3 linked regions of the Homo sapiens genome follow. The protein of the gene in region 1 interacts with the protein of each later gene in a biochemical or structural test. Each region holds a gene or a part of one and is shown in the gene's direction. Other genes may lie near its edges. The genes, in order: SETD7, STAT3 and H3-3A.

Evidence for each region.
Region 2: of the proteins of SETD7 (region 1) and STAT3, one has a biochemical effect on the other in vitro, tested with the Homo sapiens proteins (one study listed by BioGRID).
Region 3: of the proteins of SETD7 (region 1) and H3-3A, one has a biochemical effect on the other in vitro, tested with the Homo sapiens proteins (one study listed by BioGRID).

The regions. Positions count from the first base shown.
Region 1 is NC_000004.12:139,532,168-139,535,821, reverse strand, and holds part of SETD7 (histone-lysine N-methyltransferase SETD7), read left to right. Parts: intron 1-2,455; coding exon 2,456-2,657; coding exon of another isoform or gene 2,658-2,693; exon of another isoform or gene 2,694-3,257; intron 3,258-3,654. UniProt on the Homo sapiens protein: Histone methyltransferase that specifically monomethylates 'Lys-4' of histone H3. H3 'Lys-4' methylation represents a specific tag for epigenetic transcriptional activation.
Region 2 is NC_000017.11:42,332,813-42,336,466, reverse strand, and holds part of STAT3 (signal transducer and activator of transcription 3), read left to right. Parts: intron 1-2,417; coding exon 2,418-2,576; intron 2,577-2,701; coding exon 2,702-2,794; intron 2,795-3,654. UniProt on the Homo sapiens protein: Signal transducer and transcription activator that mediates cellular responses to interleukins, KITLG/SCF, LEP and other growth factors. Once activated, recruits coactivators, such as NCOA1 or MED1, to the promoter region of the target gene.
Region 3 is NC_000001.11:226,068,987-226,072,542, forward strand, and holds the end of H3-3A (histone H3.3), read left to right. Parts: intron 1-2,364; coding exon 2,365-2,493; 3' UTR 2,494-3,033; downstream 3,034-3,556. UniProt on the Homo sapiens protein: Variant histone H3 which replaces conventional H3 in a wide range of nucleosomes in active genes. Constitutes the predominant form of histone H3 in non-dividing cells and is incorporated into chromatin independently of DNA synthesis.

The DNA.
Region 1 (3,654 bases):
GATTTCATCTAACTTACTATTAAAAGTTGCCAAGAAAGCTAAGCTGTGGCCTCAAGCAGATGGCTGAAAAAATAACGCAGTAAGATTTGCTTTCCAATGCCTTAAGAGTTTGCATTTGTGTACTTTGAGTCAGTTGGGCTAAGAGGGAAATAGCAGTTTGTTCTTCGTACTCTGATAGATGGGATGATGGGCTCCATGGGTAAGGGAGGTTAGGACAAGCCACTGAATACAGTTGGGGGAAATGTCTGCAAGTCCATATTATTTTTTGTCTGATTTGCAAGACCTGTTTCTTGTAGATTTGATCATAACCCTGAGAAATATTGGCAGACTAGTCTGTCAGGGAGTAATATTCTACCCAAACTCACACAGGAACATTTTGAATGCTGCTGAGAGTCCAAAGTCAATAGGGTTGCCAGGATGAGCAAATAAAAATCTAGTTAAATCCAGGACACCCAGTTAAATTGGAATTTGCTCAACAAAAAAAGTAAGTATAATTATATCCCATTCACTATTTGGGACATTCATAAACTAAAAAATTATTTGTTGTTTATCTGAAATTCAAACTTAGCTGGGAATCCTGTATTATACCTGGCAATCCTAAAAATGAAGATAAATGAATAGTTTCTTGCACTACATAAATTACATCATTATGTCACTTGATTAGTACCCTTCACCAATGATTTTTTTTTTAATTGTGGGAGTCTAATGACAGTTGAATCTCATTACTTCCAACCTCACTGTTTTAGAATTTTGATTATTTATGCAAGAGCTATGCTAAAGTGCACTTTATTCTCTTCATGAATTTAGGAAGCCTATTTGTCATTGATAGTACAAATAAAACTGAAAGAAAACTATTTATCTCCTTGGGATACTACAAATAGTATAATTACCTTTTAACCAGAAGCTATCATTATTTAGAATCTGCTTTTCATTTAATAATTATAGATCATTCACAGTTGTTCATTGAAATAAGTCAAGACTTTACCAGACAGAGTCAGGTGCAGCCACCTAAGTCCTGATGGCCCGCTTTGCGTCCCATCTGCTCCAGTTCACAGTGTGTCTTGCCAGTCTCTCCTATACCATTGTGTTTGTTTTGTTCCTTATCCGCTCTAGAGCCTCACACAATGCTTGCTACTGAGAAGGCACACTGTAAATGTTGACTAGTTGTGGCTGGGAGGCCGAGTTGGGTGGATCCCTTGAGCCCAGGAGTTCGAGACCAGCATACGTAACATGACAAAACCTCATCTCTACAAAAAAAAACAAAAATTAACCCGGTGTGGTGACACATACCTGTGGTCCCAGCTACTTGGGAGGCTGAGGTGGGAGGATGGCTTGAGCCCCAGGAGGTCGAGGCTGCAGTGAGCCATGATCATGCCACTGCACTCCAGCCTGGGCAATAGAGCAAGATCCTCTCTCGAAAAAAAAAATTACTAGTTGAATTAATGAATAAATACTCTCTGCCTATGTTAAAATAATCAAGCTGTCTTTGTTTCAAAATTTTCTTACATTTTAAATTTTAAAAATAATTTGAGTTGGTCTTTCCCTATTCCAAATTTTAGTACTTAAAGGGAATTTTGGGTGTTTCATTGCATAGGGCCTTTCAGAGGATAACAATGAAAACATGTTCCTGAACTTGCAAATATATATTACAAGGAGAGAGATGGAGAAGTGCTGGTAAAATCACGTGAGCATCCCTGTGAGCTTTCTTCTGGTATAGGACCGTGGGTCTCAAACTATCAGGATGCTAATGATATCAGCAGGGTGGAGCATTCAGTCTTCCTTACTTGCCCCTACTGGCCATGATCATGGATGTATGTATATACATAGATATACATACATACATACATACATACATAGATATATAGATATACTTAAATAAATCCCCATATGTCTTCCAAGGAGATGGAAGGGATTTCATTTGACTGGATACCAATTACGGCTATTAATGATAAATAATACATTAGTGACTTGAAACAAATGTGTAGACATTCACACACTTTAAGCCACATTTCTATCATTAGAGATTACTATATACAAGCCATCTGAAAGACCCTTGAGAACTACCAGTGAATTCTGGAGCACTCTTGAGGGAAATTAGACATGAATGGTTTGCTTGTGGAACAGGTAACACCAGAATTTCTATTGCCTGAAAACATACTCAAGTGAACTTGTTCTCAGTTTCCATCAGTAGCTTTTTTCTTCTCTATTTTCTCCAGCAGAGTAAAAGGATTCCCAGGAACCATGAGATTGGGTATTAAATCTCCGTCTTTCTTCTCAGTCTTACCCACGTCCATGAAGCACCTTTTCCTAGCAGTCGATGATAATTTAGGAGGCTGCGCTGAATCCATGTCAGGGCTGACACAGCTGGGCATGCAGTTCCTTGGATATGATCCTTTCTTCTAAGAGAGTCAAGTCATGGTCTGACTATTCCTTTTTGTTTTTCCTTTCCTCACAGCACCCTGGAGGGGTATTATGTGGATGATGCCTTGCAGGGCCAGGGAGTTTACACTTACGAAGATGGGGGAGTTCTCCAGGGCACGTATGTAGACGGAGAGCTGAACGGTCCAGCCCAGGAATATGACACAGATGGGAGACTGATCTTCAAGGGGCAGTATAAAGATAACATTCGTCATGGAGTGTGCTGGATATATTACCCAGTAAGCCGTGTGACTGTTCACTCTGCTGGAAAGTAACATACTGTGACTCTTCACAATGAAGAGTAAAATGTATTCTGTGTTAGAACTTGGGAGCTGTGAAACCTGAGAGTCACCACAGCTGACACCAAGAGTTTATGAGGCATGCCCTCTCACTGTTACTCACTATTGGCTTAGATTGTTGGCCCTTGAATCCGTTATTAATTATTTTTCAGCGTTGTTTTGGAAAGGAGTAATTAATCATGATTAAAACAAATTGAGACAAATTGGTTTTATTGTATCACTAATAAAGGCAAAATATATTGCTTTTAATTCTTTTGGCACATAGAGGGAGATAGTGGAAATTTTCATTGTTGCTATTAGTTTTATTTCCTGTTTCTCATATGTAAAAACCAGTCCAGCAATTTTTAATTTGGGAGAGCTTACTGCACTGTTGTTACTTGATTCTACAATTCCACTAACTGCTTTTTAAGGTATTTTATGGTTTATATTGTTTAAATTAAGGTGATTAAAATTAACTTACCTTTGAGTATTTGATAGCATTTTATGATATTTCTGGAGTCTATTAAAGTAAAAAGATATGGCAGAACCCATGGTTGGAAATTAATGCTCTAATTTTTGTTTGCATTTCAAATGTCCCATCTGTTGTTACTGAATTTCCAGAAAATGTTACAGAAAATACACCTTAGAAAACACTTTATCTTTATTTTATTTTATTTTTTATTTATTGAGACAGGGTCTTGTTCTGTTGCCCAGGCTGGAGTGCAGTGGCACGATCTTGGCTCACTACAACCTCCATCTCCCAGACTCAAGCCATCTTCCCACCTCAGCCTCCTTAGTAGCTGGGATTACAGGCCTATGTCATCACATCTGGCTAATATTTTTGTGTTTTCTTTTTTGAGACAGGGTTTCTCTAAAACCTAGTCTCGAACTCCTGGGCTCAAGCAATCCACCTGCCTTGGCCTCCTGAAATGCTGAAATTACAGGCATGAGCCATTGC
Region 2 (3,654 bases), on another chromosome or scaffold:
ACCACCACACCTGGCTAATTTTTAAATTTTTTATAGAGACAGGGTCTTACTTTGTTGCCTGGGCTGGTCTCAAATTCCTGGGCTCAAGGGATCATCCCACTTCGGCCTCTCAAAAGCTCTGGAATTATAGATGTGAGCTGCCGTGCCCAGCCCAGGATCTTCCTTTATATGCTTTTCTGTAATTTGCACTTTTACCTTCATCCAGCATATCTTACTGCAACCCTTCCTGTGCAAGGCCCTATAGTGAGCATGTTGCACCAGCTTGCCTTAGGAGAAACTTGAGATACAGAGCCTGCACTGGAAATTTAGCGCAACTCTACATGAGAATGCCTGTCTATTCATATCCTCACTAACCCTGAGTGTTGTTAATTTACTGAAAGCAGTTTTAAATGCTTCCTGACCAGGGAACGAAGAAGCTTAAGTTCTGGGAATGGGAGGATAGAAGTGCCAGAAAAGAGCTCAGGAGTTCAGAAATCCCTGCAGCGGTCCCCCTCCCTCTCCTTTCACTTTCTGTCTTTCTGGTCTTTTGGTCTTTGTTACACTAGTGATAAACCATCAAAGAATGATGGAATGATGCTAACTTCTCTCTTTTTTTAATTTTTTTGAGACAGAGTCTCACTCTGTCACCCAGGTTAGAGTGCAGTGGCATGATCTTGGCTTACTGCAACCTCCTCCTCCCAGGTTCAAGCGATTCTTAGTCACAACCTTCCAAGTAGCTGGGATTACAGGCCCATGCCACCATGCCTGGCTATTTTTTTGTATTTTAGTAGATCGACCTGCCTCGGCCTCTCAAATTTTTGGGATTACAGGTGTCAGCCACTGCACCTGGCCTAATATCTCTATTCTTGGAGATAGATTTAATGAGCTTTTTCTCCCTCTCTATTCACTTATTCCTTGTGCATGTTATCAATATTTTGAAACATAATGTCATGTCCTTTGATCAGTTGAAGGCTGACATTGAAAAGGCTTATGGGGATTGGGTGTTGTGGCTCACGCCTGTAAATCCCAATGCTTTGGGAGGCAGAGTCGGGAGGATCACTTGAACCCAGGAGTTTGAGACCAGCCTGGGCAACAAAGTGAGATCCCATCCCTACAAAAATTTAAAAAACTAGACATGTGCCATTACACTTCAGCCTGGGTGACAGAGTGAGACTCCATCTCAAAAAACTAAACTAAACTAAACAGGCATGGTGGCACACACCTATAGTTCTAGCTACTCAGGAAGCTGAGGTAGGAGGATCACTCATGTCCAGGAGTTGGAGGAGGCAGTGAGCTATGATCATGCCATTGCACTGCACTAGGCCACAGAGTGGGACCCTGTCTCAAAAAAAAAAAAAGAAAGAAAGAAAAGAAAGGGCTCATGTAGTTCAAGCCCTTCTCTTCATGCAAGGGGATGCTAAGGCCCATGATGGTGAAGGGCCTGGCAAAGCTTGCACAGATAGTGTGTGACAGAGCTGGCTCAAACCCATCTTTGGGAGCTGTCTAATCTCTTTTTCTGAGTCTTTATGTTCATAGACAAGTTAGGATGAGTAAAGTAAGTGCTAAATTCCATATTTCGTGTTCTGCATATCTGGGCTCAGATGCTTGTCATTTTCCAGTGATAACTCCATCAATGCCTCCTAGTGGTATAAATTTTAATACTTCTTGTGTGCCCAGCCCCCTCTTAGAAATTTGAGATTTTAGGAAGGGACTAGTAATAAAAGGTAAAATAAATTATTTTCTGGCCAGGCATGGTGGCTCACACCTGTAATGCCAGTACTTCGGGAGGTCGAGGCAGATGGATCACCTGAGGTCAGGAGTTCAAGACCAGCCTGGCCAACAAGGCAAAATCCCATCTCTACTAAAAATGCAAAAATTATCCGGGAGTGGTGGTGGGTGCCTGTAATCCCAGCTACTTGGGAGGCTGAGGCAGGAGAATCACTTGAACTTGGGAGGCGGAGGTTGCAGTGAGCTGAGACTGTGCCACTGCACTCCAGCCTGGGCAACAGAGTAAGACTCTATCTCAAAAAAAAAAAAAAAAAAAAAAAGGCCAGGCGCAGTGGCTTACACCTGTAATCTCTCAGGAGGCTCAGGCAGGAGAATCACTTGAACCCGGGAAATGGAGGTTGCAGTGAGCCGAGATTGCACCACTGCACTCCAGCTCAAAAAATAAATAAATAAATAAATTATTTTCTTTTTTTATTTATTTTTTCAGCATCCACCCAACATGGTGAAAAATTCCTCTTTTCTTAATGTCACTGAACTGTAAACTTAAGATGAAAAATTGTAAATTTCATGCTATATATATTTCACCACAATAAAAAAATTCCTTGTTCTTATTGTAGTGGTCTCCATGTCTTCAGTATTTCCTTCCCCTTCTCCATCTCACCTGTATACATTCACTTTGGTAATTAGCATCTTTCTTAATTTATTGGCAGGATAACGTCATTAGCAGAATCTCAACTTCAGACCCGTCAACAAATTAAGAAACTGGAGGAGTTGCAGCAAAAAGTTTCCTACAAAGGGGACCCCATTGTACAGCACCGGCCGATGCTGGAGGAGAGAATCGTGGAGCTGTTTAGAAACTTAATGAAAAGGTAATTTAGCATCCTTGTCCCTTTCCCTCATCTAAAAAATACCTAAAGACTCACGTGGTAGAGTGAGAGGCGGGCTGACTTCTGGTCATGGCCGTGGCGCGTGAGCCCATCTTCTCTTTCCTCAGTGCCTTTGTGGTGGAGCGGCAGCCCTGCATGCCCATGCATCCTGACCGGCCCCTCGTCATCAAGACCGGCGTCCAGTTCACTACTAAAGTCAGGTAGGCCATGCCACTTCCATTTCCAGTAGAGATTTTACTGAGGGACACTGTTAGGGTGAGGGTAGAGTTGGTGGCCAGGGTCATTCTTTCCAGGTGTGGTGTCACAGGCAGTACACTGTTGCGGGGTTGAAATTTGTTGCCATACTATCTGCTTGCTCTCTGATTCTGATGTCAAAAGCAAAAGAGCAGTCATCTTTTTGAAGGTACCTGGGCATATTCCTATGATTGTAGACCTGGAGTCTCAGGCCACAGCTTCTCCTTCTGCCCAAGGGACAAAATAATGTCATCTATTTTCTGTTCTTTGAGGCTACTCTTCCCTGTGGATTTTAAGGGAAAGAGTAAGGCTTAGTGATGGGGAAGCTGAGAGGCCCCAGGGCAGGTGGGTGGTGGGCCTGTAGGGTGAGGTGTTACTTTCACACTCAAGTCAGAACAGGTGTGCTGGGGTTTTGACCTTCTGCAGCAAAATTTCCCTCCTCAGAAACTTAGTATGGTGTTCGGTTTCAGGATTAATAGAACAAAATGCCAGCTGCACAGCATGTGTTCCTGTAATATTTTTCATTATATGGCTTTGATTATCCTTTTGTGAATCTCTCACAACTTTAAGTTGTTAGTTCTTAGATGTTTTCTCAGTACCTTTGGCTTGAAGGAGTGATACTCATCTTTTGTTTTTGTTTGAGACAGGGTCTCACTCTCACCCAGGCTGGTGTGCAGTGGCATGATCTCAGCTCACTGCAACCTCCATCTCCCAGGTTCAAGTGATTCTTGTGCCTCAGCCTCCTGAGTAACTGGGAATAGAGGTGCGTGCCACCACACCCGGCTAATTTTTTTTTTTTTGAGACAGAGTCTCGCTCTTTCGGCCA
Region 3 (3,556 bases), on another chromosome or scaffold:
AGGAAACTTGTAGAAGAGTAGTGATAGGGCTAAAAAGGATGAAGCTAGAAATGTGAAAGTACCTTTTTTTTTTTTTTTTGAGACGAGTCACACTCTGTCACCTAGGCTGGAGTGCAGTGGTGCAATCTCGGCTTACTGCAGCCTCCGCCTCCCGGGTTCAAGCAATTCTCCTGTCTCAGCCTCCCAAGTAGCTGGGACTACAGGCACATGCCACCACGCCCAGCTACTTTTTGTATTTTTAGTAGAGACAAGGTTTCTCCGTGTTGGTCAGTCTAGTCTCAAGCTCCTGACCTCGGGTGATCTGCCTGCCTCGGCCTCCCAAAGTGCTGGGATTACAGGCGTGAGCCACCACGGCACCTGGTCTGGAATTTTTTTTATTAGAATAAAAATGCAACTATAAGACTGTTTTCTCCCTTAATATATCTTCAGCAGAGAAATAACTTTTCCTTATAGAAAAGGAGAGAGAGCCAACTAACCTATCATTTCATGCTCCAGATCCAAAACTGTTGGATTTATGATTATTTTTTAAAATGGTAATTTCTCCATTTCAAAATGAGTAAGCAGGCCGGGCATGGCGGCTCACACCTGTAATCCCAGCACTTTGGGAGGCTGAGGTGGGCAGATCACCTGAAGTTAGGAGTTCAAGACCAGCCTGGCCAACATGGTGAAACCCCATCTCTACTAAAAATACAAAATTAGCTGGACGTGATGGTGCATGCCTGTAATCCCAGCTACTCGGGAGGCTGAGGCAGGAGAATTGCCTGAGCTCGGGAGGTGGAGGTTGCAGTGAGCCGAGGTTATACCACTGCACTCCAGCCAGGGCTACAGAGCAAGACTCAAACCTCAAAAAACAAAAACAAAAAGAGTAAGCAGATGTTTTGGCTTAGACTAAAAGATTCTTCAGCTTTTCAGACAGCTATAAGTATACTAAGAATTTGAGTTATGAGTTAATTCTAAGTGGAAACGCCCCTTTTTCCTCTTCACAAGTTAAGTGTCAATGAGTGATTCATACACTGTCATTTTTAAGTGGTAGTAGGAATAAGATAACTTGAAAGGATCTTACAGTCAAATGGGAAAAACCAGAGAAATCGATACTAGTACTAGAGGGCAACAAATGCTGTTACAAATTGGGGTACGTAGAGGAAGGTACTTGGTAGAGGACAGGGGCATGTTTCCGGGGCATAGATCAAAGTATATAAATAAGGAACTGCCAGGCCAGTTGCGGTGGCTCACTCCTGTAATCCCAGCACTTTGGGAGGCCGAGGCAGGAGGATCACGAGGTCAGGAGATCGAGACCATCCTAGCTAACACAATGAAGCCCCATCTCTACTGAAAATTAGTCAGGCGTGGTGGTGGGCGCCTGTAGCCCGAGCTACTCGGGAGGCTGAGGCAGGAGAATGACATGAACCTGGGAGGTGGAGCTTGCAGTGAGCTGAGATCTTGCCACTGCACTCCAGCCTGGGCAACAAAGAGAGACTCCGTCTCAAAATAAATAAATAAGGAACTGCCGGGCGCGGTGGCTCACGCCTATAATCCCAGCACTTTGGGAGGCCAAGGTGGGTGGATCACGAGGTCAGGAGTTCGAGACCAGCCTGACCAACATGGTGAAACCCCTTCTCTACTAAAAATACAAAAAAGTAGCCAGGCATGGTGGCGCATACCTGTAGTCCCAGCTACTCGGGAGGCTGAGGCAGGAGAATCGCTTGAATCCGGGAGGTGGAGGTTGCAGTGAGCCGAGATCGCGCTACTGCACTCCAGCCTGGGCGACAGAGTAAGACTCCATCTCAGAAAGAAAGAAAGAAATACGGAACTAACTTGTGATATGTTCTGGAATCAAAAGTACTCTTATGATAAAACAGGTATGAAAGGGAACATAGATGAGAAGCATGTGATAAAAACCACTTGTTCACCATGTTATACTACTGGACAAGGCAGAGGTTCACATACTGTGTGAATGGGATTCAGAGTGAGGAGGAGACTAGGCTGGGATGGGGTATTTGGATTGGACATGATTGCGTTTATAAGAATGAGAGTGTTAAATTGGATTTCTTGCTTTATTTGTGACATTTCAGTTTATTAGAAATCATGTTACCATTAGAAAAATTGAAGTTTCCTAGTAACAAAGTAATTTGATTTGTGTAACTTGATAAAAGATTTACTGACTTAAGCTTTTGTTTTTTTTCATAAGCTGCTTTTGAGCTTTGTCCCACAGGTTGTAAAATGTAAGCATTTGGTAAAATTGTCAGCATCTTGCCCAGTCATTTTTTTAAAGGGTTCAAAAACCTTTTTGTTTTAATTCGTATAGTTGGGTCTTAACTATTGGAAATAACATCATCAGTAATTTTTTCTTCATTCCTTTTGCAGGAGGCAAGTGAGGCCTATCTGGTTGGCCTTTTTGAAGACACCAACCTGTGTGCTATCCATGCCAAACGTGTAACAATTATGCCAAAAGACATCCAGCTAGCACGCCGCATACGTGGAGAACGTGCTTAAGAATCCACTATGATGGGAAACATTTCATTCTCAAAAAAAAAAAAAAAAATTTCTCTTCTTCCTGTTATTGGTAGTTCTGAACGTTAGATATTTTTTTTCCATGGGGTCAAAAGGTACCTAAGTATATGATTGCGAGTGGAAAAATAGGGGACAGAAATCAGGTATTGGCAGTTTTTCCATTTTCATTTGTGTGTGAATTTTTAATATAAATGCGGAGACGTAAAGCATTAATGCAAGTTAAAATGTTTCAGTGAACAAGTTTCAGCGGTTCAACTTTATAATAATTATAAATAAACCTGTTAAATTTTTCTGGACAATGCCAGCATTTGGATTTTTTTAAAACAAGTAAATTTCTTATTGATGGCAACTAAATGGTGTTTGTAGCATTTTTATCATACAGTAGATTCCATCCATTCACTATACTTTTCTAACTGAGTTGTCCTACATGCAAGTACATGTTTTTAATGTTGTCTGTCTTCTGTGCTGTTCCTGTAAGTTTGCTATTAAAATACATTAAACTATACCTGCTTTTGGTCTTTATTATAGCCTTGCCCTACAATTATATTCCAAATAATTTCAGTATTAAGTCCTTTAATAGTCACTTTATATCTGAGACGTGAGACTTATTGAGAGAGAAGGAAAGTATAGACTTGGTGGCAAAAGGAACTTGGCTTTATTTCTAATTTTTAGAAGCTTGCCACTACCCAGTGGTCTTAACTCTTTGGATGTGTTGTCTTCTGAACCAATAATTCGAAAAGCTAATCAACAGGATCACCTGGAAATAGTGGAATCTGTAAGTAGATTGAACTTTCATGAATGTTTAATAACAAATGAGAGTGTGTAACAGTCTTTAGCTCAAAAATTAATGCATTCAAGATCTGGCTATTTTAAGATGCTCTATTAGTTAACCCTGAATTTATTCAAGCACTAATAGTTAATTCTTAGCCCTGTTTTATTTAGTGTTGGTACAATTAATGTGAAATGAGGATAATTAAACCTTCTAAGACTTTTAACACATCCCATTAGTTGTAACGTTTGAGTGTTTGAAACTGCCCTAGAAGTG